Regions from separate parts of the Homo sapiens genome. Here region 2 is linked to region 1. The links come from fine-mapping of genetic effects on gene expression. A gene starts in region 1. The other region holds a variant in brackets. All regions are shown on one strand. Distances are between the middles of the regions.

Region 1 (5,384 bases):
CACCTTGGGGGTTAGGATTTCAACATACGAATTTTGGAGGAACACAAACATTTAGTCCATTGCACATCCCTCTGAGATTTTTCACCCGATCTTTCTTCTCAGTCTACTTTCTCTACCTTAATGAATCAACTCAATTTTCACCTCTTCTGTGAAGGAAACTTCCCTGACCTCCTCAGGTAGAGGGGACTACGCTCTCCTTTGTTTTTTACTACTTCTGGTATCCTACCCCTTCCAACACACATTAGACTGTATGTAATACTGGTGTGTGTGTGTGTGTGTGTCTTTATAGAAAGCCTGGGAGGAGTTCATTGCCATGTAGTCAGGGAGACAAATGTGTAACATAATATTCACCTCACATCTGTGTAGATTTACATGAGATATCCAAGGCACAGAGTGCTGCAGCTCATGTGCAACATATTTATTGAGTGCATGATAACATCAATAAATAACTTTTATATTAGGAGAGGGCGTAATTTACTAGAGCATTCCTCGAAAGGTCCCATCAGAAACTCCCCAAGATTTTAATAACTGTTCCTTGAAAAAAAGAATATATCGCTCAAATTGATTTGATAAGTTCAAGGTTGAATAAAGTTAAAATTTTTAATATGCACAAATTTTTAATTTTTCCCTGCAATACTTCTTGGAACTCTTAATGTGCCAATGTGCATTGTGAATTTCCAAAAGTGGATTCAGAATGCAGCATTTCCTAATTGTATTGGGCCATAAAATTCCATGTTCTCCATGTACCCTAGGACACAGTTTGGAGATATTGTTGAGAGTAGAGTATGATATCATTGTCACCATATATTAACTGCTTGATTTTGGGTCACCTCTTTATGCCTTAGTTTCCTCAACTGCAAAATGGGGATAATACCTTCCTGCCTGCTTCAGACAGGTGAAAAGAAATGGGAATAATACCTATATCTAATATTGTTGTTGGCAAAACAAAAAGGTTTATAAAATGTCCAGGAGTTCTTAGTAGATGTTAGCAATTACAATTATTAATAGTATGTCCAGGAGCCAACTCTTCATCTTCAGATCTCTAACACTTTGCAGAATACCAGATTTGAAGCTGAGTTAAATTCAGACTGTTAGTACATGTCTCAGCTTTAGAATGTAGGTGTCCAAAAAGACTTCCCCTCCACCTGTATCATTTGCCTTTTAAACAGAATCTGAGTCAATATATTAAGTTAGTCCTGTTCTGGCCATGGTCCTGTCCTTTAGTATCTTCTTGTAAAAAATAAAAATAAGAAGAAATGAGGTTCAACTAAATAACCTCGAGAGTTCATATTCCCTCTAAAATTTCAAGGTAAAACTAAAGTAATTCTTTCTCAAGTTGCAGCAGAAGGAGTTTTTGTATTTTCTAACTGGTCTGATAAGCACAAAGAAGTCGTTTTTTTTACTTAGAAATGCCATTTTACAGGAGGCTGAGGTGGTGGGATCACTTGGGCCAGAGCTCAAGATCAGCCTGGGAAACAGTTAGATACCTGCCCCCAGCACCCAAATTAAAAGTACAAAAAATCTGGGTGCGGTCGTGAATTCCTGTAATCCCAGCTACTTGGGAGTGGAGGTGGAAGGACTGCTTGAGCTCAGGAGTTGGAGACTGGGCAACAGAGCAAGACTCATCTCAAAAAAAAAAAAAAAAAAGAGAAATGTCACCACTTTAAACTGGTTCCCATCAACCTTTTTGATACAAAGAAATTTTACTTTTGTTAAACTATTTTAGACCACTGTATCAGTTATTATATGTGACTAGGTAGCATGATAACCTATAATTTATGCCTTGAAATAATTTTGACTCATTTTCTTCCCACATCTGTATTTATGAGCCGGGGCAGCTGTGGGGTGGTTCTTTGTGTGGGATTAAGAGACACTGCAGTTCTTGAAATAAACCAGATGTTTGAATTTTCAAAGGAAAAGTTCACACCTAGTGAAGTATTTATTTACAAGCTCCACAACAAAACAAGAGATTATAAGAAAACTTTCAAGGGACATGGGTCACAGAAACCAACAGGAACACCACAGCTTTCCCAACTTCATGGCCCCGGGGGATGTTACAAAAGACACAGAAACGCCGATCTTGTGCTGACTGTAAACATTTGTCAACTAGTGTTACAATGACTAAGAAATTACAAAAGAGTTACAATCTGATGAAGAGCGATTCCTGCTTTGACTTTATTTGGTTTCTATCCACTTTTCCAACATACCTTATAAAATACATGCAAAAAACTGGTTTTAGAAAGCGTTCCCTAAAATTAGTGTGTACGGAAACTTCAGGTATACTTCTGCTTTCCTCCGCAAAACCACCCCTTTTTAAAAATCGAAAGTGAAATTAGTTTTTTTTTCTGTTAGTGACTAATCATTGGAGACAACCATGTTTAGTATTTGAGCATTGGTTAAATGCTAAAGAAAAATCGCCGTTAAAGCAGTTTTCTTTTTCACTGTCTTTTTCTTTTCGCGGGGAACCCAGCTGTTCCTGCGAGGGCCACCTCCTCAGGAAGACCCCGCAGCTCTCCCGCGGCGCTTCTGCAGGAGGCAGCGACAGTTTCGAGAACCCGGGCCTTCCCCTCCCAGTGCCTCCCGGGGTTCCGGCGTTTCAGGCGCTGCTGTTTTCCGGGAAGGGCAGGCGCGCTGGGCCTTGGGGAGCTGCGCTCGGCGGGCGGACGCGGGTGAGTGGGGAGTCCCTTCCCCGGCTGCCACTCCCGCCGCTGGCAGTCCCGGGCTGGAGAGCCGGGGGTGGAAAGGGAGGTGGGAGCCCTCAGCGCCGACGGAAGTGGGACAGCGCCGGAGTTGAGACCCTGCTCCCCGGGAGCTGCCCGCAGCCGAGTCGCGGAGGCCACGCCGCCTTCGAGGGGGCGCACCTGCTCCTGGGCCCGCTGTGCAGTCTCTGGGCCGTCAGGGCTTCGAGCCTTGTCACTTGTTTGCTTTGCTTCATTGAGGAAATTGAAACATAAAGTTATTTGTGTTTCCTCGCTGTTTTCTCTCTTTTTTTTTTTTTTTTTTTTTTTTGAGACGGAGTCTCGCTCTGTCGCTCAGGCTGGAGTGCAGTGGCGCGATCTCGGCTCACTGCAAGCTCCGCCTCCCGGGTTCACGCCATTCTCCAGCCTCAGCCTCCCGAGTAGAGTAGCTGGGACTACAGGCGCCCGCCACCACGCCTGGCTAATTTTTTTTTTTGTATTTTTAGTAGAGACGGGGTTTCACCGTGTTAACCAGGATGGATACGATCTCCTGACCTCGTGATCCGCACGCCTCGGCCTCCCAAAGTGCTGGGATTACAGGCGTGAGCCACCGCGCCCGGCCCTCGCTGTTTTCTCCGAGTGTCTCTGGAGATAGTCCTTAGGAAAACGGATTTCTTAAGAAAACGATTCTTGGTAGGGGCAGTGTTGTGCAGTCATGGCTGGCGTGTCAGAATAGGCAAGGTTTTTCTTGAAGGAGACATCCGAAGGAGAATACTGTGTTTCCAGTCTGTACAACAGGCAGACGTTCTATTGCCTTTCTTTTTGCTGCCACGCATGCATATAGGAAGATTCGATTCTACACGGCCTGGCACCGCAGTTATATGATTGTATTACGGAAATACGGTGATGTTGATTTGTATCAGTTTTTTTAATTCGCTGCCATAACAAATTACATGGCTTTAGTGGCTTAAACACATAGGAACGCGCGCGCGCGCGCACACACACACACACACACACACTCACATACACAATTTACTATCTTAGGATTCTGTAGCAGTCCTACTGAGGTCTCACTGGGTTAAAATCAAAGTGTTGGCAGGGTTGCCTTCCTTTCTGGAAGCTCTTGGGGTGAATCCTCTTTCCATCTTCCGGAGGCCACCTACCTTATTTGGCTCAGCAGCCCTTCCTCCATCTTCAGGGCCAGCAACATTGCGCCTCTGAAAGTTCTTCCGGGGTCACATTTCACTCTTGACTCTTCTTCTGTCTTCCGCTTTCACTTTTAAGTAGCCTCATGATTACACTGGGCTCCCACAGATAATCCAGGATGCTCTCCATATTTAAAAGCAAGCTGATTAGCAACCTTAATTCAATCTGCAGCCTTAATTCTCCTTTGCAATATAAACTAACATAATCACAGATTCTTGGGATTAAGATGTGGACATCTTTGAGGGAGCCATTGTTTTGCCTACTACATGATTGCATAAAAGGAATGACCATACATCCCACTCATGCATAGAGCAAAAGTATCCAGATGCAAAAGATGCCAAAAGGGTTCTGGTGGTGTTAGATAGTAGACCATTTATGCTGAGAGCCTTTATTACAGGCTCTTGGAATATTGGCATTGTCACAATAATAAAAATAAAAAGCAATTAAATAACATTGCAGTTTCTGTCTTCTGAAATGTAATAAGAGGACTTCATATACATGTGATGTCCTGAGTACAACAAATACTTAAGTCAAGATACCACATAATTCTCTAAATGGAGTGTTTTCAGTGTGTAAGCTTATACTGAGAAAGTGCTCTGAATGTCTGCAGGGAGGAGTAGACATGGTCCCAGCCCTCAACATGTTTACTGATGTGTCACGGAAAATGACATAGGTACACACGTAATTAAAGCGCCGCAAAGGAGATAAAGGAGGGGGAGTAACATCCTTTGGGGGAATCAGAAAAGGCTTCGGGAGCTTGGGGAAAATTTGGAATGGACCTTGAAGAACAGTAAGATTTCATTAGATGGAGATTAAGTTTGGGAGAGGAGGAAGGATGTGACAGTTTGAGGGACAGAGGAAAGAAAAGGAACTATCCAAGTGTTCAGTGTGGTTAGGGAACTGGGTTGAGGAATTGACTAAATAGGACGGGAAAGTGAGTTGGAGTTAGAATGTATCAGACCATGGCTGACCATTAAGAAGATTTTGCAGTTGTTGATACAATAGCGATATATATGTATATATGTATGCGTGTGTGTGTGTGTGTGTGTATGTGTGTGAGAGAGAGAGAGAGAGATGTGGTTTAAATATATATATACTTATATATATATATCGTCTCAAGGCATCTCAAACTTACAGAAAAGTTGCAAGTACAGTAAAACAACTTTTCCTTTTCCTAAATTATTTAAGAATAAATTTCCAATCTGGTGACCTATCATCTTTCATTATATACTTGAGTATATATTTCCTACAAAAAAGATGTGCTCCGACATAACCACAATACAGTCATCAAAATCAGGAATGTGGAGTGCTACGTTACTACAATTTAATAATCAGATCCAATGTGAATTTCACCAGTTGTCCTGATAGTGTCTTGGATAGTGTAGGGGTCAAGGGAAAACTTCCTCTTTGCTCTCTGAAGGGCAAAGGCAGATTAAAAAGGAGAAATGGCATACAAATTTATTAATGTGCACAGGGGAAAAAAATCACATAGTGATGATA
Region 2 (5,384 bases), 75 kb after region 1:
TTGCCCACTTGGCCGTCTTCTAAGTGTATTTTATTTCCTTTCATTCCTGTTCTAAAGCTTTTTAATACACTTTCACTCTTGATGTAAAACTTGCCTCAGTCTCTCCTTCTGCCTTATGTCCCTCAGGTGAATTCTTTGTTCTGAGAAGCCAAGAATTGAGGTTGCTGCAGCCCCGTATGGATACTTTCCACTGATAACAACATGAGGGATGAGAAAATTAGAATATTCTAGCATTACTAATTTGCTTTATTATACACAGAATCATCTCAGAATACTAATACTAATACAACCACTGCCAATATGATCAGAGAAAAGACTTAGTTTTGTTGTAACTATTGTCTGTGGCTTTTGGTTTTGCTGTATATTTGTTTTGTCTGTTTTCATGTGACGATTTGGGGGGATTCAAATCTATGCTACTGTTCCTATAGCAGCATATGTTCCAAATCCCCTTTTGAAAAGTGGTGAAATATTCTTCCCTGGATAATTAAACATACACAAAGAGTAGTCCAATGGGCTGATGACTGTTTAATTTAGTCTAGGATGCGCTTTGTTGTTCACTACTAAAGGCCATTGTAGTGAACTAAAAGAACATTGTAGTGTACTAAAGTCCACATGGTGGTCTCTTCTGGTTCATCCTACTGGGGATTCTAGAATAAGTTCAGTCAAGCTGCAATAGCAGTCAGAAGGTGTCTCTGGGGCTGTGATCAGTAGAGGGCCCCAGGCACCGCTTGTAGAGGCTTAATCTAGCTAATAATCTCTTTTTTTGAGACCCAGTTTCACTTGTTGCGCAGGCTGGAGTGCAATGGCATGATCTCAGCTCACTGCAACCTCTGCCTCCCAGGTTCAAGTGATTCTCCTGCCTCAGCCTCCCGAACAGCTGGGATTACAGGCGTGCACCACCACGCCCGGCTAAATTTTGTATTTTTATTAGAGGTGGGGTTTCACCATGTTGGCCAGGCTGGTCTCGAACTCCTGACCTCCAGTTTTCCACCTGCCTTGGCCTCCCAAAGTGCTGGGATTACAGGTATGAGCCACTGCACCCGGCTCAATAATCTTAAGCAACTCTTCAAAACTACCAACATAAATAAACAATCTAAGTCAAAACAGTGTGATTGCTATCAAAATGCAGATTAAGAACCGTACCCTACTGCCTCTTTTCAATCAGATTGCTTCTCTACACCCCTTCTATGTAGATTTTCTGGAGCTGGCACTTGCAATAGTGAACATGTACTGTTTTGGTTGCCCATCACCCATTTCCCTTACTTTGGCACACACACTAATTTCCTTTTGAAGAATTAACTCTCCCTCTGGAAATTTTCTTTTTGGGATTGTCTACCCACTAAGCAGGCAAGTGACTCCAGCTTGGTTAATCAGATGCTCCTGGAACTTCCAGTCTTGATTGGAGCAATGCAGAAAGGGTACGAGATGCTAGGAGATTATTCGTTCCAGTGATGGTAGGTGTGGAGAATGTTGATTAATTCCACTTGCTTTGGAGCTACCCTGATTCCTAACCTTTTTTCGACTTGTTTCTCTGGTATTGCTATCAATTTTGTATGTCCCCTGATATCTACCTAATATATTCATGTTCTGTTTAAAGTTGTTTGTTACTTGTGACCAAACAACTATCACTGATTTAGTGGTGATCTCTGGAGTACATAAGAAATCTTGTCTATTTTAATTGCAATACCTCTTCTAGCAGTTCTGATCCTCTTTCCCTGCTCTATTTAAAAAACACACACTTTATAACTTACTTATTGTGTTTATTGTCTATCTCTTTCACTAAAATATAAGCTCTATGAATGCAAGGATTCTTGATTTAAATGTGTTTCTTTGACTCGTGTATCCCAAATACCTATGACAATTAGTGGAACATAGTAGGTACTCAAGAAATATTTGTAAATTTAATAAAGTCTTTAAGCCACTGATTTGTGAATTTCTTGATGGTCTATATGGAGCAATGCTTAGTGCCCAGTTTGTTGTAAAACCTTGGCATGTTTTTGCTGCAGATGGTTTGGTATGTTATCACTGAGTGGGTTAGGAGAAAATGTAATAACATGAGGACAGTAACCAGCTGCTTTGCATCTCCAAGGGTATGAACAAAACTCTGGGCTCAGATGGTTAAAGTTCTACACAATTGTCCAGATCTTGATATCTAACCAAAGTCCATTTTACTTTTTAAGGGAAATTTTGGAAATATCAATAGTAAGGTAAAAGTAGATTTGATTAAATGACTCAAAAGTAATGCATTCATTTTTGAATTTTTTTAAAATTTAAAATTTGCACTTATTCCAACAAAATGACACAGCACCCAATTGAGACTGAATGTCGTAATCGGACAGCAGATCTCAAGGTGGCAAGTACAGCCAGTAGAGGATGGCTAGTGTGATTTGAATAATATTGTAGAAACTGAGCCCAGAATGAGGTTATTACCAGAATGTTACAGTTGCTAGTGGAAGGTAAATTGAACAACTAATATTGGAACGGAAAGAAGAGTATTTATTAAGCAAGCATTAAGTTTTACATGAGATTTACATATGTTATTTTACATATGACTTTCATATGTTTTTTTCACTTTATCCTCAGAAGAAGCCTATGTGTTAACATCTTCATTTTATAAACAGAGAAACTGATATGAGAAGCTAGTTAACTTGTGGTCACACAAGAAAATGGCAGATCCAGAATCTGGCTCACGTTGACTGATTCTAAATTTCTGATACTTTCCACTACATCACCTCCAACCAAGAAATTAGTTATTAAGTCTGAAATTATAGAAAACAAGCCAACTTTTCTGGGTAAAGATGGTGGATGAATATAGGCAATAGCTATCACCCTCTTGTCGAACCCTAAGCCCCTCTAATCTAAACTTTTTTTTTTTTTGAGACGGAGTCTTGCTCTGTCACCCAGGCTGGAGTACAGTGGTGCAATCTTGGCTTACTGCAACCTTCACCTCCCAGGTTTAAGCGGTCCTCCCACCTGCCTCCCACCAGCCTCCCAAGTAGCTAAGATTATAGGCGTGTACCACCAGGCT[C/T]AGCTAATTGTTTTTGTGTTTTTAGTAGAGGCAGGGTTTCTCCATGTTGGCCAGGCTGGTCGCAAACTCCTGACCTCAAATGAACCACCTGCCTCAACCTCCCAAAGTGCTGGGATTACAGGCATGAGCCCCTGCGCCCGGCCTAAACTTTTTTTTTTTTTTTTTTTTTAAGGCATAAACACTTGAGGACAAGAGAATGGGAGAGAAAATGAATAAAATTTTGAAAATTGATAAGTAGATGGGAAAGTGGTAATTGATTAAGCAGATCTGACATGACTGAATCCTCACTAAGCAGTGGAGAAAGTTGAGAAACAAATTGATTTACACTGAGTTGAATCCCTAAGGCTTAATTAGAGCGGATACCTCTGTAAGTGCAAAGAAAGTAGTCTGATTTCTTTCAGAAGCAGTTAAGCTCCCTAGGCCTGCGTCCCGATTCTACAGAGTTGTATGACGGCTTGCTCTTCCATCATCATGGAAGAAGATTGAAGCTATATTCCCAGGAAATGTAACATGGAAGGGGTAACGTAGAAAGGATTCCAAGCACAATTGAGGACAGGGGCCCATACTGAAGGCAGGGAAGAAGGTAAAATTTGTATACTCAATTCTGAAATCACTGAATCACTGTCTTTCCCTACAAACCTCACAGAAAGCCAGCAGCCAGTCCCATACCCTATAGGAGAGGAATTCGGATGATCATTCTCTGGGGAATCTCAGCAGCCCATGGCTTTCCAAGAGGAGAGACCTAATGACATTAACGCTAGGGATTCCTTAGGGAAATAGCTGTCCTCATCGCTTGGAACTGGAGCCCATGGCAAAACAGCCCCACCTTTGTGCTCAAAACTTCTAATCAACTTTTTAATAAATGTAAACAAATTTAATTGTGGTAAAAAAACACATGAAATTTTTCATCTTAACCATTTTTAAGTGTAGAGTTCAGTAAGTATTTCAGAATATTCACATTGCTGTGTGACAGATCTCCAGAACATTTTCATCCTGCAAACCTGAAACTGTATGCTTATTGAACAACTCCCATTTCCCCCTCTTCCCTGGAAACCACCACACTTCTGTTTCTATGAGTTTGACCACTTCAGATCTCTTGCATAAGTGGACTCATACAATATTTGCCCTTCTGTGACTGGCTTATTTCACTTAGCATAATGTCCTCAAGTTGCATCCTTGTTGTATAGCATGTGACAAGATTTCCTTTTTTATTTAATATAAAATATTCCAGGTTTTAATCGACTTGTAAAGCTTCACTCTTAAGTATGTACAGACAATCTGCAATTATCAGGCATCAGAGCAAAGCTTCTTGTATGTAGTAAACAACATAAAACACCAAACAACTCAGGGATAAGATAACTTTACAAAAACTATCACTTAAAACCTCAGAGAAGGCCGGTCATGGTGGCTCATGCCTGTAATCCCAGCATTTTGGGAGGCTGAGGCAGGCAGATTACCTGAGGTCAGGAGTTCAAGACCAGCTTGGCCAACATGGCGAAACCGCGTCTCTACTAAAAACACAAAAATTAGCTGGGCATGGTGGCGTGTGCCTGTATTCCTAGCTACTTGTGAGGCTGAGGCAGGAGAATCGCTTGAACCCGGGCAGTGGAGGTTGCAGAGAGCCGAGATCGCGCCACTGTACTCCAGCCTGGGCAACAGAAGGGACTCTATCTGAAAACAAAAACAAAAACAAAACAAAACCTCAGAGAATAGGAGATTCCATACAGGAAGCAAGAATAGAATAATTGTAACAAAAAGATCAGTAAAAACAAAAACAAAGAGTTGTTGGGAAAACCTGAAAGAATGGTTGAAATGTAAAGCTGAATAATTTCTCAGAAAGTGGAAAAAAGAGAAAAAGGATGAAAAATGAGAGAAAAAAGATAAGAAAATTAGAGCACAACGTCAGGAAACCTAAAATCCAAAATAATAGGAATTTTACAAAGAGAAAACAGATAAAATAGAGGAGAGGAATTCATCAACAAAATAATTACAAAAATTATGCAGAACTGAAGCACATGAATTTCTTGGTTGAAGGGTCCACCTCATTCACTGCACAATGGTGCAGCATGATGAAATCTCAGGACACCAGGGACAATAAGGGAACTCTACCAATTTTATTTTATGTTTTTTTTACAAAGAGAGATAAAAAAGAATTCAAAGTTAGAATGGCATCAATATTGCAACAGCAATGCTGGAAACTCTAAGATAATGGAGAAATGTCTTCAAAATTATAATAGAAAATGATCTCCAATTTAAAATTATTTGCCCAGCTAATTTATTAATCAAGGTATCCAATGACTATTAAATTTGTAAGTGTCAAGGCTCTACTTTATCACTTTGTTTGCTGAGTAGCATT

What was found. PIP is the estimated chance that this variant, and not a neighbour inherited with it, causes the effect.
Region 2: its variant is the best candidate, but not a certain one, in a credible set for the expression of NMI in whole blood (TOPMed, PIP 0.88).

The regions. Positions count from the first base shown.
Region 1 is chr2:151,286,878-151,292,261 of GRCh38, reverse strand. It overlaps NMI (N-myc and STAT interactor), which reads left to right and starts at 2,594. Exons shown (of 8, transcript NM_004688.3): 1 at 2,594-2,669. RefSeq lists enhancers at 2,006-2,425, 2,486-2,565, 2,956-3,005, 3,026-3,075, 3,876-4,045 and a silencer at 2,626-2,825.
Region 2 is chr2:151,211,871-151,217,254 of GRCh38, reverse strand. No RefSeq gene overlaps it. Among named protein-coding and RNA genes, the nearest start is that of RBM43, 47 kb to the left of the region's middle. The variant C/T (reference allele first, on the strand shown) is at 3,029.